Linked DNA regions of Homo sapiens. The protein of the gene in region 4 purifies or fractionates together with the protein of the main gene of each other region. This does not show direct contact. Each region holds a gene or a part of one and is shown on either strand. Other genes may lie near its edges.

What was found. Proteins that work in one complex are often made in the same cells at the same time.
Region 1: the proteins of GPI (region 4) and FKBP1A fractionate together in Homo sapiens (co-fractionation; one large-scale study listed by BioGRID). This does not show direct contact.
Region 2: the proteins of GPI (region 4) and PLS3 purify together in Homo sapiens (affinity purification with mass spectrometry, with the first as the bait; one large-scale study listed by BioGRID). This does not show direct contact.
Region 3: the proteins of GPI (region 4) and ALDH4A1 fractionate together in Homo sapiens (co-fractionation; one large-scale study listed by BioGRID). This does not show direct contact.

The regions. Positions count from the first base shown.
Region 1 is NC_000020.11:1,372,091-1,377,188, reverse strand, and holds part of FKBP1A (peptidyl-prolyl cis-trans isomerase FKBP1A), read left to right. Parts: exon of another isoform or gene 1-391; intron 392-1,585; coding exon 1,586-1,698; intron 1,699-2,490; exon of another isoform or gene 2,491-2,705; intron 2,706-4,010; exon of another isoform or gene 4,011-4,111; intron 4,112-4,948; coding exon 4,949-5,077; coding exon of another isoform or gene 5,078-5,098. UniProt on the Homo sapiens protein: Keeps in an inactive conformation TGFBR1, the TGF-beta type I serine/threonine kinase receptor, preventing TGF-beta receptor activation in absence of ligand.
Region 2 is NC_000023.11:115,566,540-115,571,637, reverse strand, and holds part of PLS3 (plastin-3), read right to left. Parts: intron 1-5,098. UniProt on the Homo sapiens protein: Actin-bundling protein.
Region 3 is NC_000001.11:18,871,092-18,876,189, reverse strand, and holds the end of ALDH4A1 (delta-1-pyrroline-5-carboxylate dehydrogenase, mitochondrial isoform a precursor), read left to right. Parts: intron 1-686; coding exon 687-808; intron 809-1,608; coding exon 1,609-1,727; intron 1,728-3,232; coding exon 3,233-3,345; 3' UTR 3,346-4,760; downstream 4,761-5,098. UniProt on the Homo sapiens protein: Irreversible conversion of delta-1-pyrroline-5-carboxylate (P5C), derived either from proline or ornithine, to glutamate. This is a necessary step in the pathway interconnecting the urea and tricarboxylic acid cycles.
Region 4 is NC_000019.10:34,370,240-34,375,337, forward strand, and holds part of GPI (glucose-6-phosphate isomerase), read left to right. Parts: intron 1-5,098. UniProt on the Homo sapiens protein: In the cytoplasm, catalyzes the conversion of glucose-6-phosphate to fructose-6-phosphate, the second step in glycolysis, and the reverse reaction during gluconeogenesis.

The DNA of each region.
Region 1 (5,098 bases), on a different chromosome or scaffold from region 4:
TAGGTTGGGATTTTTGTCAGGATTTTCTTTTTTTCCTAAACTCTTACACAACAGAACTGTAATGTTTTTATGGATCTTCTGAGTAATGAATGCTTAGAACCATGGTGAGTGCCCACCCTCAGTCTTCCAGTAAAATCAGTTTTGTGTCCATTATATGTTAACCACTGGCTGACCCTCCAATCTGGGATCCTAATTAGAGAATTCTCAGGAACTCAGTGTCAGCTATCACAATAGGCTGGCAGTGGCTTCCTGAGAAAGCAATGCCGATGGTGTTTTTGAAAAGGAAGTTGCAGATATCTATTGCAGATGTCTGTTCCTCTTTTCTCATAGCGTCTCTGGAGTTCCCCTTTTATTGGAAGGCGCCGTCGTGGCTTGTCCAGCTTCTGGGAAACTGGAATAATAGAAAGAGCATGGTATTTGGGTTTATAATTTATAACGTAGTTTTACTATTTTACTAAATTATAAATTTACTATTTTTATAATAGTAAATTTTACTATTTACTATTTTCACTTCTCCCTGTCTGCCTCAGTTTCTTCATCTGTGAAATGGGGATAGTGCTGTGGAGAAAGAATTGCATTCGTTCATGTGTGGAAAGCACCTAGCCCATTTAGAGTAACTCAGAGTGGAACCACTGGCCACAGAGTTGCTAGCAGTTGGCTGGGTTTACTGAGTTAATTCTTGAAGGGCCACCACTGCAACCTCCTTAGTATTCCTGTTCTCTTCAGTCATCTCTGTTACAAAGTATTAGCTGTGCAAAAATGAGCATGGGTTGTTTTGTGGGGCAGCATTGGATAAAATAAGTGGGATGAATGCTGCACAAATTCTTTCTTTCATTTCTCTATTTCAGCCTAGGTTGGTTTTTACTTTCCCAGGAAAATTATGACAACTCAGGAACCAGCCTACAAGGGGCCAGCTTTACGCCCCAGGTTCCCTGTTGGTGTGAGACACTTGGCACTAGAATGAGGGTGAAAGCTTGCCTTATAGCTTCCTCTTACCACATCCCATAGTGCTGACCCACAGCCTGGAGAGCAGCAATGTGTGTAGGTCACAATTAGTGAACCACAGAGGAGCCCATGGGGGTGGCAGATGGTGGAGGGGGATTTGCCTGCACTGAACAATGGAGGAGCAATATATACACACATTATATGTGAAAGATGATGGGGGATTTTGGGAAGGAATATTGCTTCTTGCACTGTGTGTGACTTCTAGACATAGTGTGCACCTCGAGGGACCACAGTTATTTTTAGCTGGGGAGAAAATCCACGGGGTGCTGGGAGAGTCAGGGCAGGAGGAAGTTTATACTCCCCATCTCCAGAAGAAGGTGGACTGCCGCTCATCTCTGGTACGCGGGGTCCTTTTGTAGTCGAGTTATTGCTTGGAGTCAGGGAAGAGCATTCACAGGTCTGGAGTAGGACTGTCGCAACTCCTTAGATGTCCAGTGAGGTCACAGGAAACCCTCCCTAGATACTGCAGTTCCTGCCAGACTCTTCAGCACTGGCATCTCTGATGAGTGCTCTGCTGCTGGTTTCTGACTTGTCTTGTGTCATTACTCTGCTGCTCATGTTACAGTCGTCTTTTTCACAGGGATGCTTGAAGATGGAAAGAAATTTGATTCCTCCCGGGACAGAAACAAGCCCTTTAAGTTTATGCTAGGCAAGCAGGAGGTGATCCGAGGCTGGGAAGAAGGGGTTGCCCAGGTATGCTCTCTCATTTGTTTTGTTTTGCTTTCTAGTATTTACCTTTTATATTTTTTTATAGGTGGCATATTTATACGGTTCAAAAATAAAAAAAGTGAAAAGTCTCACCCTCATGCCATCCCATCTGACCAATACCCCCACAAGAAGCTCCTGTTGTTAATGTTTCTTGTACTGTGGTTTAAGCACATATAAAAACATAACTTTTTTCTTGCTTTCACACACATACTGTTTTGCAGTTTACTTTTTCACTTAATGCATTTTTGACACTTGCAATACCACTACATAAAAGAGGAGTAGGCTGGGCGCGGTGGCTCATGCCTGTAATTCCAGCACTTTGGGAGGCCAAGATGGGTGGATCACCTGAGGTCAGGAGTTCCTGTAATCCCAGCACTTTGGGAGGCCAAGATGGATGGATCACCTGAGGTCCGGAGTTCGAGACCAGCCTGGCCAACATGGCGAAACCCCATCTCCATTAAAAATACAAAAATTAGCCGGGCGTGGTGGCAGGTGCCTGTAATCCCAGCTACTTGGGAGGCCGAGGCAGGAGAATCACTTGAACCCAGCAGGCGGAGGTTGTAGTGAGCCAAGATTGTGCCATTGCGCTCCAGCCTGGATGACGAGAGCGAAACTCCATTTCAAAAAAGAAAGAAAAAATGAGGAGTAAGCTCTGTTACAGCTGCCTAGTATTCGTTTATGTAAGTGTGCTATAATTTACTTGGCTAGTGCCCTATTAATGAGTATTTGAGTCATTTCCAGTATTTTGCTATTATAAACAATGCTGCAGTAACTCACCTTGTACAGACTTCATTTTCCACGTGTGCACATGTTGCCATAGGACTTACTCTCAGAAGTGGGATGAGGGGCTCAAAAGCTGTGTGTAGTGTTTTTGAGAGGTCTTGTCAAGTTACCATCTCTAGGGGTTGCACTCTGGACTGCCACCACCAGGCTATAAAGGTGCAATCTCCTCCCAGCCCCAGCATCACAGTATATTGTTAAATCTTTGGCCTCTGGACAATAAGAGTAAAACATGATATCAGTGGTTTTAATTTGTATTTATCTATTACCCATATTGTGTGAGACCACTTCTGAGACGTCATACTTATGGAGAAAGTCATTTCGTTTGTCTTGAGTGTGTTTCCTAATCTCTTTCCTCCCCATTTGTGGAAACAGCTTTTGTTCTGCCAACACTACAAAATTCCCAGGAGACAATAGGGACCCAGGGTTGCCAAATTTTAGTTGGATTCTGTCTTTCCATCAAACCTAGGAATTTTTTCTTGGCTCTAACCAGGTAAAGGGATGTTTTTCAGTGACCTGAGACCCAAGGAACTTTATAATTAGGCTCTGCATGATGGGTAATTAGTCTGCTTCCCTCTCACCCAGGAGAATTAGAAATTTAACCAAGATGAAAAGACAGATTTCTGTCTCTCTCTTTTCCAGAATACACATTGCTCTACTTCCTCTATAAAATATCACTGATTTATCTCCAAATAAACTGCTCAACTTTCAGGAACTTGAAGCCATCCCACTCCCAGGTGTCTGGGTTTCTGTTCCTGCAGGGCAGAGGGTTGGCAGTGTGAGGAAGAGGCTTTGTAGTTTACTTCCCTTGGGAAACCTTGCCAACCATAGCTTTTTGCCTCTGTCTCCCTAGTCTGTCTGGCTCTTGGATCTGTAGCCCATCCCCCATCTTTCATGCCAGCCATTGTTCATACCACAACCCATCTTCTGTGACTGCTCCAGCATTGGAACAATCACTGCGTTGTATGTACTGAGTGCTGTATCTGCCATCGAGATAGTGTTATCGGCCTACTTCACTTCCCAGGCTTGGAGAGGCATGGTCGAGTATTGGACAGATGCCTGACTCCCCCTTTAACTGGTATTTTGGGGTCAGTCACAGCCCTGTCATTTGTGAGAAGTCTGGGTAGTTTGAGATCTACATAAAATATCTTTTAAATTCTTCATAGCATATTTTTTCACCAAGTGAGTTAAAAACACAGGAAGAAGGGGAGATTGACTTGTGACCCTTTTCCTTTCCTTTTGATATTGTTTTGGTTTTACATGTTTGCAGGCGTGGAGTCCTGCCTGCCACAAGGACCATTTTGGCAGCTTTCTTTCATCCATCTTGGACATCTTTTCATGTTAATACATTTAAAGCCACCACTATATGATTTCTCATGACTAATCCCTGGTGTGGATATGCCTATGAAACCACTCCTTCTGTGATGGACTTTTGAGTTGTTAGCAGAATATTCTGGAAATAGAATTGCTGAGTCAAGGAATATGATTGTTTTGAATTGTACAAGGTAAAGCCATACCTCACTATCCTTACCACCTTGGTCCAACATGTCCCAGCTTCTGAGGGGAGCAAGGACTAGACGCTTCACAGCCTGGAGCTTCCTCTTTATTCATCCTCTGTCTGGTGGAGTTGGAAAGTCGGGAACATACACATGGAGACCAAAAGCAGAGATAAGTCAAAGGATGGAAATACTGCAGAGAACCTGCTCACTGTTCAGAAAGTAGATATTTTATACTTATTTGTGTATTTAATTTGAAACTGAAAATATACACAAATATATTTTTTAAAGTAGAAATCTCTCCTTACTGGTCACTCACTATCCATACTGTTCTCCTCACAGCAAATGTCTGGTATGTCCTTCCAAAGATGTTTTCTGTTGTAGGCATATCAATATTTTCACAAATGGTATTCAGTAAATGCTATTTTGTAGCCCAGAAAATCATATTGTCTTTTTTGAAGTTTTCCTATATGGGTAAAAGAGTATAAATAGAAAAAATACAGAAAAAATAGACTACCCTCAAGTATTACTTCCTGTGTATATATTTTTTTAAAGCAAAGTTGAGTATTCCTTTTTCAAGAAGAGCATAGATGGCACTTAACATGTCCTTTAAGTGACAGATCACTGAAGGGGACTAGGTGGTGAGACATCTGGAATGTTACCTGCCTAGCATTAGTCATTAAGACTTGCGTAGAAAGGTTGAGGGCCTGACCGTTCTGAGAGTCAGGAGGGGTTTTGAACTGCCATTGGGCTTCTTGGAGTGAGATGCAGGGGTGATGGAATATGACTGCCAACCTCCAAGTCCTGCACAAGGAGGTGGTGATGCCTGGGCAGCTGCAAAGTCACTGGAAAGTCAATACCATCCTGGCCAAGGAACACCTAGGTAAACAGCTCTTTTTCTTACAGAGACAGTTGGGGCATGTGTCCAGCTGAGTCTGTCTTCCTTGTTCTTTTCACAGATGAGTGTGGGTCAGAGAGCCAAACTGACTATATCTCCAGATTATGCCTATGGTGCCACTGGGCACCCAGGCATCATCCCACCACATGCCACTCTCGTCTTCGATGTGGAGCTTCTAAAACTGGAATGACAGGAATGGCCTCCTCCCTTA
Region 2 (5,098 bases), on a different chromosome or scaffold from region 4:
GGTGTCTGTAATTTACTGAGCCATGTTTCCAATTTTCCTTTGAAGGTGAGTTCTTGTTTCTTTCCTTTTCCTTTTCCTCTTTCCTTTTCTCTTTCTCTCTTTCTTTTTCTTTTTTTTTTTTTTCCAGAGTCTTGCTCTGTCACCCAGGCTGGAGGGAAGTGGCACGATCTTGGCTCACTGCAGCCTCCGCCTCCCAGACTCGAGGGATTCTTGTGCCTCAGCCTTCCAAGTAGCTGGGTACATAGGCATGGGCCAACACGCCTGGCTAATTTTTGTATATTTAGTAGAGACAGAGTTTTGCTATGTTGGCCAGGCTGGTTTCGAACTCCTGAGCTGAAGTGATTTGCCCGCCTTGGCCTCCCAAAGTGTTGGGATTACACGCGTAAACCACTGTGACGGGTCTTGGCTAGTTCTCCACATATCCTCACAAAAGAATAAATTAAATGGCAGGGTTCAGTGGCTCACGCCTGTAATCCCAACACTTTGGGAGGCCGAGGTGGGTGGTCATGAGGTTAGGAGATCAAGACCATCCTGGCTAACACAGTGAAACCCCGTCTCTACTAAAAATACAAAAAATTAGCAGGGCATGGTGGTGGGCACCTGTAGTCCCTGCTACTCGGGAGGCTGAGGCAGGAGAATCGCATGAACCCGGAGGCGGAGGTTGCAGTGAGCTGAGATCGCGCCACTGCACTCCAGCCTGGACGACACAGTGAGACTCCGTTTCAAAAAAAAAAAAAAAAAAAGAATAAATTAAACGATAAACAGGTTTCTGAGCTAAGCGAAGAAGCTTCTTCAACCTGAAACATGGCTAGAATCCTTCACATTCACAATGAAAAACAATAAAAGGAGTGTTTTTCCAATACCATTAAATAAAACACAAAAAACCCCACTAATTTCTAAAATCTTGCCAGCCTGGGCAACATGGGGAAATCCCATCTCTACTAAAAAACAAACTACAAAAAAAAGTTAGCCAGGCATGGTAGTACACGCCTGTAATCCCAGCTACTCGGGAGGCTGAGGCACGGAGATCGCTTGAGCCCCGGGAAGTCAAGGTTGCAGTGAGCTGAGATCGCACAGTTGCACTCCAGCCTGGGCGACAAAGCAAGACTCTGTCCAAAAAAAAAAAAAAAAAAAGGAAGGTAGGAAGGTACTCAAATTAGAGAAAAAGAGGTAGATATAGATGCCTGACAAAAATCATCTAAGGCAACATTAATCAACCTGTAAATGAAAATACTTATTGAGCACCTACCATATGCTAGTTGCTTTATAAGTGTTCTCATATAATAATTATGAGAACAAAGTGAAAAGTGAGTGTATTATCTTCATTTTATTCATGGGGTAACTGAGGTTCAGAGAGTTAAGAAACCTCCTCAATGCCACAGAGATATAAAATGGGAGAGCTGGCCCAGGCGCGGTGGCTCATGCCTGTAATCCCAGCACTTTGGGAGGCCAACGCAGGTGGATCACGAGGTCAAGAGTTCAAGACCAGCCTGGCCAAGACGGTGAAACCCCATCTCTACTAAAAATACAAAAATTAGCCGGGCACAGTGGCAGGAGCCTATAATCCCAGCTACTCACAAGGCTGAGGCAGGAGAATCGCTTGAACCTGGGGGATGGAGGTTGCAGTGAGCCGAGATTGTGCCACTGTACTCCAGCCTGGGCGACAAGGTGAGGCTCTGTCTCTAAACAAATAAATAAATAATAAAATGCGAGAGCTATTGGAACCCATACTTTATGCTAAAATCCATTCTGACTGTGCAACATAGCATGTAAATGATGCCCCTGAAAAGAAAAGAAAGGTAGTGAGAATGTGTTGTTGGGTGAAAGGAACCTTCCAAGTCACTTCTGGGTCATAATAGAATTCCCAGACCAATAAAGTCTTTGGTGAGTGAGGCTAGTGAACTGGAGGAAAGAGAAAAACACCATGGAAGGGTCTGTGAAATGGCATGGGTTAAGTTTCAGGAGGGATATGTAATGTACAATGAGCCATTTAAATACACAAAATATTTGTAAATTCAAGTGCTTGTAATTTAAGCAATCGCCATATACTGAAACCAGGCACAAATTAAGTGACAGCATCAGAATTTTTACTATTATTGGACCTATGTTTAGTTATATTATTTAAGCAACCTGAATGAAATGTAAAACTCTGAGTTTAACTGTAGTTTATTGAGTGATATCAAAGTACTTTAAGAAACTAATAGCCTTGAGATAAAAGGGCATATCAGCAAATAGTCATTTAGCCAACACCAGGATTAAATGTTTCTTTAGGATACTGAATGTTCATAGGCACAAATAAGCTTTGTATACTTGAACTGAGTTTTATAATAATATTAAACATAAAGGCTTCTTAAAAACAAACGTGTCTCCCTTCCCCCATTAACAGTTCCGTTTCAAAAAACAGAACTTCCTATGATTGTACACAGCACAGAATCCTACCTCATCCTGCTCTGCACCTGCTAACTAGATCAGAGAAAACCAAAATACTTCCAAGACATATACTTTACCTAAACAAGTTCCAGTTTAGAGTCACATATGATACAATACACTATATAAAGAATGGCCTTTTCTTTTTTCTTCTTCTTTTTTTTTTTTTTTTTTTGAAACGGAGTCGTGCTCTGTTGCCCGGGCTGGAGTGCAGTGGTGCAATCTTGGCTCACTGCAACCTTCACCTCCTGGGTTCAAGCGATTCTCCTGCCTTAGCCTCCCAAGTAGCTGGGATTACAGGCGTGCGCCACCATGCTCAGCTAGTTTTTTTGTATTTTTAGTAGAGACGGAGTTTTGCCATGTTGGCCAGGCTGGTCTTGAACTCCTGACCTCAAGTGATCTGCCTGCCTTGGCCTTCCAAAGTATTGGGATTACAGGCCTGAGCCACCATGCCCAGCCTTCTTTTTTTAAATGCCACTGAAATCAAGGCTATCTTTTTGTTTAAGCCAATGTTTAAATTTCAGGGACTATCAAAGGAATTCATCTTTAAAACATTCTTGGTGACTTCTAAAAAATGATAGAGTGCAAAATGATGTTCGATCAAGAATGCTTACTGAAGCATTATCTGTAAGATATGGAAACAAATGTTCAACAACTTGGAATTAGTGAAATAAATTATGAAACAGCCATTATATAAAATATACTGCAGTGATTTTAAACATTTTTAAAAATATTTGATCACTTGGAAACATGTTTATAATGTAATAAATGAAAAGAATGGGATATAGTGTTATTCCAATTTTTAAAAATTTCTCTTCCTACATATAAAATAAACATAAAAATATGAGCATTTAAAATTATAGTTACCTTGAATTTTTCTAATCCAAAGCAAAGTGATTGAAAACATCTTTAAAGTACACACTACACAAGACACTTTCCCAGTAGATTAATTCATACATGTTGAATAGTATAGCAATAGGATGTGCTCTAGGGACAATTTCGTATCATTTTCACCTCTGAGCAAACTCTTTGCACCCTATAATGGTGATTCTTCCTGATCTGAAACACAAGCCCCAAAATGTTAAAATGAACAACAAGAAATGGCAAAAATGGGAACATTCAAGCAAGTTAAGAAATATAGAAAAAAAGCTTGAAAATTACATTCATCTATGAATGAAAGCGTTATTTTCAGTGTCAACAGCAGAATGTCAATCTGAGTGCAACACGATGTAATTAGAGCTTATAATGTGGAACACAATAATATGAATATTCAAAACTATTATACGGCCCTAACAAATTTTATTTTACAGAAAGTAAAAACTTATATTATATATCACGTAAAACTTTATATAATATACATATGCACACATAAGTGTATATATACTCGTGTGTGTATGAATATCACAACTCAAGGGAATCAGACTTGTATTTTCAATGAACTGGACAGAGTATGAATGGGCGACAGAGTGAGAACCTGACTCAAAAAAAAAAAAAAAAAAAAGAAGAAGAAAAGAAAAGAAAATCCAAGTTAATAGCTTTGAAGGTGTTTATTTTTCAACTTAACTTCCCACATTTTCTGTTTTTTTTTGTTTGTTTGTTTGTTTTTCTGTTTTTCTTTTGAGATGGGGTCTCACTCGGTAGCCCAGGCTTGGAGTGCAATGGCGCAATCTCGGCTCACTGTAACCTCCGCCTCCCAGGCTCAAGCAATCCTCCCACCTCAGCCTCTTGGGTAGCTGGGACTACAAGCCCGTGCCACCGTGCTTGGCTAAGTTTTTGTATTTTAGTAGAGACGGGGTTTCACCATGTTGGCTAGGCTGGTCTCCTGGCCTGAAGTGATCCACCCACCTCGGCCTCCCAAAGTGTTGGGATGACAGATGTGAGCCACCGTGCCAGGCCATTTTTTGTGTTATTCATGGCATGCTACTTAAATGTATAGATTATCTCTTCCACTATGCAGTTTCCCAGACCTGCGTGTTGTCCTCCTTTAGACTGCAATTATGAGGAGGAAAAACTTGATTTTTTATGAGGTTTTTTACACGAAACCTCCCATTATGGGCAATCACAAAACTAAAAATGAGGTATGGTAAGCCAATGGACTCTGTAACAATTACCACTGAAGACCAAAATTCTACTCAGTAGTTAGTTAAAAAGGGGAAAAACACCACCCAATTAATGGCTTTAACGGGCTACCTTGCACAATATTTGAGGTAAGAAATAGAAGAAAGTATCACATGGGCTGGGCGCGGTGGCTCATGCCTGTAATCCCAGCACTCTGGGAGGCCAAGGCGGGCGGATCACAAGGTCAGGAATTCTAGACCAGCCTGACCAACATGGTGAAACCCCATTTCTACTAAAAATACAAAAATTAGCCAGGCGTGGTGGTACGCGCCTGTAATCCCAGCTACTCAGGAGGCTGAGGCACGAGAATCACTTGAACCCGGAGGCAGAGGTTGCAGTGGGCTGAGATCACGCCATTGCATTCCAGCCTGGGCGACAGAGCGAGACTCCATCTCAAAACAAAACAAAACAAAACGGGCCGGGCGCGGTGGCTCACGCCTGTAATCCCAGCACTTTGGGAGGCCGAGGCGGGCGGATCACGAGGTCAGGAGATCGAGACCACGGTGAAACCCCGTCTCTACTAAAAATACAAAAAAACTAGCTGGGCACAGTG
Region 3 (5,098 bases), on a different chromosome or scaffold from region 4:
GAATGCCTCCGACCGGGAGAGAGTAGAGCCAGGTTTTGAGCTCAGGCTGCCTAACTCCAAATCCGGGGCTGTGTCCTTGACCCTGGCTGGGGTCTGAGCATTTCCAGTGCCCTCAGCAACCACGTCCACTGCAGCCATCATAATGGCTGACACTGATAGACTTTTACTGTGGGGCCAGCTGTGGCTGAGCACTTGGCTGAGATGACGTGGGTGTTACTGTTCCCATTTTACAGATGAGAAACTGAGGTCAAGGCACTTGCCCAAGTTGGTAGTGCAGGGCTGGAGTGTGCCTGAGAAGATCTTCCCCCCAGCCCCTTGGTGGCAGAGGGAACCATGAACCCTTCTGGAGGGAATGGTATCTCTGGGCAACTCTCATGCCAGCTGCTGCTGGAAGCCTCTGGGACCTGGACCCTTAGTTCTCCGGGTGTGGGTTTGGCAGGGAGAGCCAGAAAATGTTTGCATCTTTTGCCGGCTTGTGGTGGGATGGACAGGACAGGGAGCTGGGCACGTTGCTGTCCTGGAGGGAACCCAGGAGGAGGCGACACCTGACCCTTCTTGCAGACACTGAAGTGTAAACTGAGGCCCAGGGACTGGGGAGAGGGTGAGCCAGAGCAGGGGCACTGGGAGGGCTCAGGGCCCTGGTCCCTGGTCCCGTGGAGGGTCTGACGCCGGGGCCTCTCTCCTAGGAGATCTTCGGGCCTGTACTGTCTGTGTACGTCTACCCGGATGACAAGTACAAGGAGACGCTGCAGCTGGTTGACAGCACCACCAGCTATGGCCTCACGGGGGCAGTGTTCTCCCAGGATAAGTGAGTGGCCAGGCCGCAGCCCTGGTGCTGTGCTCCGGGTGTCCTGTCCGTGTCCCCATCCCCACCTCCTGGACGTGGTTCCCAGTAATAATGCTGCCCCTACCTTCTCTCTGTCCCCTCCCCTCAGCCCAGACAGGCAGCCAGGGCTCGCCACATGGGCCCACAGCAGCAGGCTCTTTGTTGCCGGTACTGGTGGTGCCGGTGCCAGGGTGCCACTGGGGACCAGTGGATCTGAACCTCTAGGGGCAGGGCTAGGAATTGGTGTCTTCGACTGGCTCTGCGGGATCTGGTGTTGCCCCACTGAGTGAGGTGATTGTCCCATGCTACAAAGCAGGGCAGGCCAGGGGCTGCAGAGGCAGGATTCGAACCTGGGTCACATGAGGCTAAACTTGAGGCTTCGCCTCTTCTTTCCTCCGTGGCACTGGTTGCCCCCATGTCTGCCTCTATGAGAAAGTGGAGGTGAGCTTGGAGAGGGAGGAAGGGTGTGGGCCTGGGAGCTGGAGTTTCCGCTGCTCCTGAGGGACAGGAACATTGGACCAGGACAGGCCACTCCCTTCAACTTCGCAGTAGCCCTGTAACGAGGCGTGCCAAGCCCCTCCCCAGAGGAGGAAGCTGGGCTCAGAGACTGGGTAACCTGACCGAAGGCCCACAGCCAACAGCTGGCAGCATCCCTCATCCCTGACTCGGCCTCCTGTTGAACCTGGAAAGCCAGTGTGGGCTGGAGCAGGGGTGTTGAGGCTGGAGCTGGGGCTGGAGGGGAGATGAGCTGGTTGCTCTGTCACCACTGCTCTGCTTTGTAGGGACGTCGTGCAGGAGGCCACAAAGGTGCTGAGGAATGCTGCCGGCAACTTCTACATCAACGACAAGTCCACTGGCTCGATAGTGGGCCAGCAGCCCTTTGGGGGGGCCCGAGCCTCTGGTGAGTGGGTCCCCCTTCCCACAGGGGAGCTGAGTTCCTGGTGGGAGACCCTAGATGTTACGTCTCGAGGGGCTTCAGAGTAATAGGAAGGATACCATTTACTGAGCACTTATTGTGGGCCAAGCAAGTGCACTAGCTCAGGGTCCTTTCAGCAAACTCGTGAGCAAAGGGACTATTCTTCCCATTTTACAGAGGAGGAAACTGAGGCTCAAGGCCACATGACCCTGGTGGGATTGTAATTTTGGCTCCAGCAGCCGCACTTTCTGCACCATAGCCAGTGTCCCTTAAGTCCAACAACCTCTACTTCACAATGGGGAACTGAGGCTCAGGAGGAGCAATGGCTTGCCAAAGGTGACTGCTCCTGAGTGGCAGAGCCAGGGCTGAACCCAGGCGTGCTGGGGTTTCCCACACCGACCAGTTCTCCAGCTCTTGATGGATGCTGGCTGGGTGTCCTACAGTTTAACTTGATGCTCACTGCCTGGGGTTAGTGCAGACCCCACAGGTTAAGAACTCAGTCCCGTAAGACTGACCCCCCAACTTCAGATGCCAATCACAAGTACTGGGACCCCAGGTTACCCACACCTTGTCTGACTTTGCGACGCATTAGAAGCTCCCATGATGCCCTCTTGAGTTTTGATACGTTGTTAGAACAGCTCACGGAACCGAGGGGAAGCGTGCTTACTATTACCCATGTATTGCAGAGGGTATTTTAAAGGATACAGATGAACAGCCAGATGCGCAGACACATAGGGCAAAGACTGGAAGGGTCCCCGGCAGGGGCACCGCCGTCCCCCTGGAGTTCGGGCTGTGCCACCCCCTTGGCATGTGGACGTGTTCACCAATCTGGAAGCTCTCCCGACCCTGTCCTTTTAGGTTTTTATGGAGGCTGCATTACACAGGCACGATTGATTCAATCATTGGCCATTGGGGTCGACTCAACCTCCAGCCCCTCTGCCCTCCCTGGGGCTGAAGGTTCCAAGCCTCTAATCACAGGGTTGGTTCCTTTGCCAATCAGTGCCATCCTGCAAGAGCCCTCATTAGCATAAACTCATGTGTGATTAGAAGGGGCTTGTTATGAATAACGGAAGACACTCCTTTCACCCCCATCACTCTGGAAATTCCAAGAGCTTTAGGAATTCTGGCTAGGAACCAGGGGTGAAGGCTAGATATGTACCTCTTATGGCACCCCAGGACCATGCCAAGTCCCTGCCTCTCAGTCTAGTGTTCTCTCCACGCCACACCCTGCCTCTTAGACATCCTCGCATCCCAGCAAGGATGCAAGGCTGGGTGCGACTGGAGAGAACAATGGAGGCTCCCCACAGACTGGAGACTGGAGGCAGGGTCTCCTGTCCATCCCTCTGGCTCTTCTGCATGCCCCAAGCTTGGCAGCAGGCTCGCTGCTGGCCGCTACACTGCTGGTCCGTTGATTCCATCATCTCCTCCCTTCCCCTTCTGCCCAGGCTGTTGCATCTTTTCAGAGAAAAACAGAAGTGTCTTTTCCGCAGGAACCAATGACAAGCCAGGGGGCCCACACTACATCCTGCGCTGGACGTCGCCGCAGGTCATCAAGGAGACACATAAGCCCCTGGGGGACTGGAGCTACGCGTACATGCAGTGAGCCCCTCTCGGGCTCCACCGTCCAGCTGTCTGTCCGTCCAGGTGGCCGACCTCACTGCACAGACCCCACTCCAGCCCCTCCACCCCTTCTTCATGCACAGCTGCCTTTCTATAATCCGGGCTTGACTCCCTTCTTACCACTGTATTCTGGCCTCTCCCATGCCTCAGGCTCTGGTTTGAGATCGTGCTGGGGAGGAACATGGCCACTACCCCTTATCCCATCGGCCATGTGGGAGGTATGACCCTGGTGCCTGGCAGGTTCTCCCTCTGCCCTCCACTGGGCCCAGTGGCTCAGGGACCTGGGGAAAGGAGATGGAGCAGCTCTTGGGATCCTTTGGGGAAAAGGAGGCCATTCTGGGCCCCTTGGCAAACCTCACCACTCACAGAGGCTCCTGGCCTTGATCCCTGCCCCTCCAGGTGTCCAGGGTAAAGTGTAACTCAGACTGACCTGTGGGGCACAGGGGGCACCAGCTGGCCTTGCCCTCTCTGGTCTGGGCTGTCTACCTTCCTCACTGTATCTTTGCCCAGACCCACCTGGGCCAGTAGGCCCCTGTCCCCAGCCACACACCTTAGATGCTGGCATGCCTTACTCCAGGTGCCTGTGTTTGGCCGAGGCCTGTGTGATTCCCGGTCTGCACCACATGGCGGGGTTGGGGGGCCGCTGGAGGCCACCTGCCAAGGCGTGGGATGGGATGGTCCTGCCGGTTTAGGCCGTGATTCTGGAAAACCTTGGATGGGCCTTCGTCCTATGTCAGCCTTCCCTTTGATCCTCAGGCCCTACCTGTAGAGACCTCCACTCCTAGAGCCAGTCTCAGGGTCTGGGATTTCCCTGCAGGAGCTCAGCCACCACTGTGCCATGGTGACACAGGCCAAGGCAGACATTGGCCCTCCCTTCTCCCAGCCCCCAGAGGCCTGGCCTTGGGTTCGTCAGCATGGGCCGAGGACGTTGCCTGTAGAATCCTCCTCTGCCTGGGAGTGGCTCTGTGTGGACCAGTCCCTCACTGGCCCATTCTTTTTTTGACGCAGCCAATCTGTGACCACGATTCCTCCCACAGATGCCTCCTGCTTGGATTCTGAGTGGTCAGAGATCTGTAAAGCATGACTTTCAAGGATGGTTCTTAGGGGACTGTGAAAGTGTTGGGTCTTCCTCCAGGATGCCTGCATGGGACCCCACCCGGAGCTGGTGTGGCCATTCCCCAAGTGCCACTGGCCCATGGATGGGGGTGGGTGCTGGTGCCAGCTGGGCTGGGTGTGGGTTCTGTGTCCTTCCAGGATATGTGTCATTTCCCATGAGGGGCCGGGGCAGGTGGCTGGGTGGGGGCACAGGCTGGAGTATTCTTAGTTCTACTGGTTCTACACTGTGAGGTGGCAATGGGATTTGCTCAGATGCCACCCAATAAAATGCCTGTTACTTAATCACAGTGGTGGATGGTCTTTCTGGAGGGGATGGTGGGGGCAGCCAACATCTTTTAAGTCTGGTGTCATTGCCAATGTGTCACCTGGTCATGGGCACAGTGCTCTCAGTGTGACAGAAGGAACAGTAGGTGCTGATGTTTGAAATTGTCTGTTGGAGGCGGTGGGGCTGGGTTCACATCCTGGCTCACTGCCCCCCCGCCAGCCAGATGATTGCCACAAAGTTATGCAACCTCTCTGACCTTCCATCTCTTCATCCATAAGATGGGGTAACCGCCCCCTCTCCCCGCCATGGGTCATCATGAGAATTGAATGAGTTAACACTTCCACATGCTTAGAAT
Region 4 (5,098 bases):
GTTGGCAGACATCCTCACGTCTGGAGAACGAGGGTGATGCCGGTGTGCCTGTGTGGGCTGTGCATGCTACGAGGGTGATCGTCCAAACTCTTGTCAGCTGTGATCATTTGCTGCTTGTCCTAGGAGCAGTGGCCTCCATGTGTGGCTGGTCAGAGTCCAGTTACTTTGGCCAAGAGCCACTTTCAGACCTGAAAATGGGCTGGGTGCAGTGGCTCACGCCTGTAATCCCAGCACTCTGGGAGGCTGAGGCAGGTGGATCATGTGAGGTCGGGAGTTTGAGATCAGCCTGATCAACATGGTGAAACGCCGTCTGTACTAAAAATACAAAAAAATTACCTGGGCGGGCATGGTGGCGAGCACCTGTAATATCAGCTACTGGGGAGGCTGAGGCAGGAGAATCTCTTGAACCCGGGAGGCAGAGGTTGCAGTGAGCCAAGATCACGCTACTGCACTCCAGCCTGGGTGACAGAGTGAGGCTCTGTCTCAAAAAAAAAAAACCAACAAAAAAACCAACCCATCTCTGGAAAAAATAAATAAATCAGCTAGGTGTGGTGGTGTATCCCAGCTACTTGGGAGGCTGGGGTGGGAGGATTGCTTGAGCCCGGGAGGTTGAGTCTGTACTGAGCTGAGATTGTGCCACTGTCCTCCAGCTCAGGTGACAGAGTGAGACGCCTCCAGGGCAAGGAAGTTGTGGGGTCCTGATGGGAATCTGGATTTCCTGAATGTCACTTAGGGTGATCAGTCCATGTGATGGTCTTTGGGTGTGTGGCGGGGCCTTTCCAGCCATCTGCTGTGAGTGGCAGAGCTGAAGTGCATTAAAAGCCTAGTGCTGTGTGATCAGTCTGGGTGTGCTCAGCCATGCCACATGGCGAGGATGGCACTGCACCGTCTGGGGTGCTGTTTCCAGGAAAGCCTTCCCTTAAAGCTGGCCACTGGAGTACCTGACTCAGGCTGATAAGGTATTTATAGTTCAAAAAAAGTTGCTGAATGGCAGTAATCCCCTGGTGAGGAACATTCCCCATGGCTGTGCTCTCCAAAGTTTGCCAAGATTGGGTGAAGACGTTCACTGTGACCTTGATTGTAGTGGCAAAACCTGAAACCAAGCTGTACTCATTTGTCAGGGGACTTACAAAGTAGAGTCAGCACATATTCATATACTGTCATCCTGGGCACCAATAGGGATTAGGGAGCTATAGTTGGATTGATCTGCCATGCTGTTCAGGATGGACTGGGAAGTTGAAAAAGGAAGTTGCAGAATTGGTGGGTATGGTAAAGACTCATTTGGTCAAATGAAGGCTGGGTGTAATTGTAATAAAGATAGACACATTTGGCTTGGTGCAGTGGCTCACACCTGTAATCCCAGCACCTTGGGAGGCCGAGGTGGGTGGATCACGAGGTCAGGAGTTCAAGACAAGCCTGGCCAACATAATGAAACCCCATCTCTACTAAAAAAAAATACAAAAAAGTTAGCCTGGCATGGTGGTGCATGCCTGTAGTCCCAGCTACTCGGGAGGCTGAGGCAGGAGAATCACTTGAACCCCAGAGGTGGAGGTTGCAGTGAGCCAAGATCACGCCACTGCACTCCAGCTTGGGCAACAGAGTGAGACTTTGTCTCAAAAAGAAAAAAAAAAAGACACATTTTTCCTCTGGGATGCTTCATTATAACAAACCTTTGACAGTCGGGAAAGGAGACTTGCTTTTTTTTTTTTGAGACAGAGTCTTACTCTGTTGCCCAGGCTGGAGTGCAATGGCGAGTTCTCGGCTCACTGCAACCTCCGCCTCCCAGGTTCAAGCAATTCTCCTGCCTCAGCCTCCTGAGTAGCTGGGATTACAGGCATCCGCCACCACACCCAGCTAATTTTTGTATTTTTAGTAGAGATGAGGTTTCACCATGTTGGTCAGGCTGGTCTCGAACTCCTGACCTCAGGTGATCCACCCACCTTGGCCTCCCAGAGTCCTGGGATTACAGGCATGAGCCACCACACCCAGCCAAGACTTGCTTTTTCTAACCTCTTTTGTCACACGCCTGTGAGGGAGGGTTGAGAAGTTGAACAACTTATTTTATTTCTTTCTGTATTGATGGAAATTTTCCCATGGCAGTTTATTTAAAGAAAAAGTAGGGCCAGGCACAGTTGCTCACATCTGTAATCCCAGCACTTTGGGAGGCAGAGGCAAGAGGATTGCTTGAGGCCAGGAGTATAATACCAGCCTGGGCAACATAACAAGACCCTGCCTTTAACAAAAATTTAAAAATTAGCCAGCTGTGGTGGTGTGTACCTATAGTCCTGGCTGCTTAGGAGGCTGAGGCGGGAGAATTGCTTGAGCCCAGGAATTTGAAGCTGCAGTGAGCTATGATCATACTCCTACATTCCAGGTCGAGCAACAGAGCGAGACCCTGTCGTTAAAACAAAACTAAAAAATACCCAGCAAGGTGCAGTGGCTCTTGTATAATCCCAGCATTTTGGAAGGGTGAATCGGATCACTGCAGGCCAGGAGTTCAAGACTAGCTTGGGCAACCTAGACCCTGTCTCTTTTTTGTTTGTTTGTTTTTTGAGACAGAGTCTCTCTCTTTCACCCAGGCTGGAGTGCAATGGCCTGATCTCGGTTCACTGCAACCTCCGCCTCCCAGGTTCAAGCGATTCTCCTGCCTCAGCCTCCCGAGTAGCTGGGATTACAGGTACCTGCCACCACACCCAGCTAATTTTTGTGTTTTTAGTAGAGATGGAGTTTCACCATGTTGGCTAGGCTGGTCTCGAACTCCTGACTTCATAATCTGTCCACCTCAGCCTCCCAAAGTGCTGGGATTATAGGCGTGAGCCACCGTGCCCAGCCTATTTTTTTTTTTTAATTAAAAAATAATTTATAGTCTGGGTGCTGTGGCTCACACCTGTAGTCCTAGCACTTTGGGAGGCCGAGGTGGGCGGATCACTTCAGGTCAGGAGTTTGAGACCAGCCTGGCCTACATGGCAAAACCCGTCTCTACTAAAAATACAAACAAAATTAGCCAGGAGTAGTGGCAGGCGCCCATAATTCCAGCTACTCAGGAGACTGAGGCAGCAGTATCATTTGAACCCATGAGGTGGAGGTTACTGAGAGCTGAGATGGCGCCACTGCACTCCAGCCTGGGTGACAGAGCGAGACTCTGTCTCAAAAAAAAAAAAAAAATTTATAACTGGGCATGGTGGTGCATGCCGGTAGTCCCAGTTACTTGGGAGGCTGAGGCAGGAGAATCGCTTGAACCCGGGAGGTGGAGGTTTCAGTAAGCTGAGATAGCACCACTGCATGCCAGCCTGGGTGACAGAGCAAGATTCCATCTCCAAAAAAAAAAAAAAAAAAATTAAAAGAAAATTGCTGGATCTTATTAGTGTATAGTAATTTTTTATTGATGTGTGGGAAATTATTCCAAAATTTAGCAACTAGAAGCAACAATCACCGTCTCTTTATGTGGGGAATTTGCAGTGGCTGTGTTTGGTGTAGTGGCTCTGATATTCTAAGGTTGCAGTCAAGATGTTGGCTAAGGATGTGGTCATTTGAAGGCTTCATGGGGGTTGGAGGGTCTGCTTTGAAGATGGCTCACTAGCAGTGCTGCCTTTGGGAGGCACAGACAGTTCGAGTGTCCTCATGACAAGGCAGCTTATTTCTCCCAGAGTGAGTGATCCAATAGAGAGTAAGGCAGATGCCTGGAGGTCTTTTGTGACCTAATATCAGGATTCACATTCTTTCTTTTTTTTATTTTTATTTTTTTGAGACAGAGTTTCACTCTTGTCACCCAGGCCAGAGTACAATGGCGTGATCTTGGCTCACTGCAACCTCCGGTCCCCGGCTCAAGCGATTCTCCTGCCTTAGCCTCCTGAGTAGCTGGGATTACAGGTGCCCGCCACCATGCCCGCCTTTTTTTTTTTTTTTTTTTTTTTAAATTTTTTTAGTAGAGATGGGGTTTCACCATTTTGGCCAGGCTGGTCTTGAACTCCTGATCTCAAGTGATCCGCCTGCCTTGCCCTCCCAAAATGCTGGGATTACAGGGTGAACCACCACGCCCGGCTACACTCTTTGATTTCTATAATACCCCGTTGGTGTTACAGATCAGCTCTGGTCATCATGGGAAGGGACTGCATCAGTGGGTTAATGCCAGGAGACAAGGACCACTGGTCACCATCTTAGAAGGTGGGGGACTATCATAGTCCCGCTTCTGGCGCCTAGTGATTGATTTTGTTCCTTCCACACACAGATACCCCACTCACTTTCTCCTAAGTCCATATTCTGTTACAGTATTAGAAGTCTGTTAGAAGTCTAGAACCTCATTTTGTCAAGTACAGGTGTAGTAGTACCTGCATTTCCTTTAGTACAGTTCCTTTCAATCTGAAGACATGAGAATTTAAAGAGACAAATTACCCCTCACACACCCAGCATACAATGGTGAGGTGGGCATGGGATGACTGGTATGTATGGGATAATTATTTCTTTTCTTTTCTTTCTTTTTTCTTTTTTTCTTTGTTTTTTTTTTTTTTGAGGTAGGGTCTCACACTGTCGCCCAGGCTGGAGTGCAGTGGTGCAGTCACTGCTCACTGCAGCCTCGAACTCCTGGGCTCAAGCAATTCCCCACCTCAACCTTCTAAGTTGCTGGGACTACAGGCACATGTCACCATGCCTGGCTACTTTTTTATTTTTTGTAGAGATGACGTCTTGCTATGTTGCCCAGGCTAGTTTTAAACTCTTGGCCTCAAGTGATCCTCCTGCCTCAGTTTCCCAGTAAGTGCTGGGATTATAGGCATGAGCCACTGAGTCCGGCCTGCATATTTAGGTTTTTATTATGACCACACTGTACTTCTGATACCAAAATCTGTATTAGTTATCTATCATTGTATAACAAATGACATCAAAACTTGGGTTAAAACAGCAATACACTTTTTTTTTTTTTTTTAAGACGGAGTCTTGCTCTGTCGCCCAGGCTAGAGTGCAATGGCGTGATCTCCACTCACTGCAACCTCTGCCTCCTGGATTTAAGCAATTCTCCTGCCTCAGCCTCCCGAGTAGCTGAGATTACAGGCACACGCCACCATGCCTGGATAATTTTTGTATTTTTTTTTTTTAGCAGAGA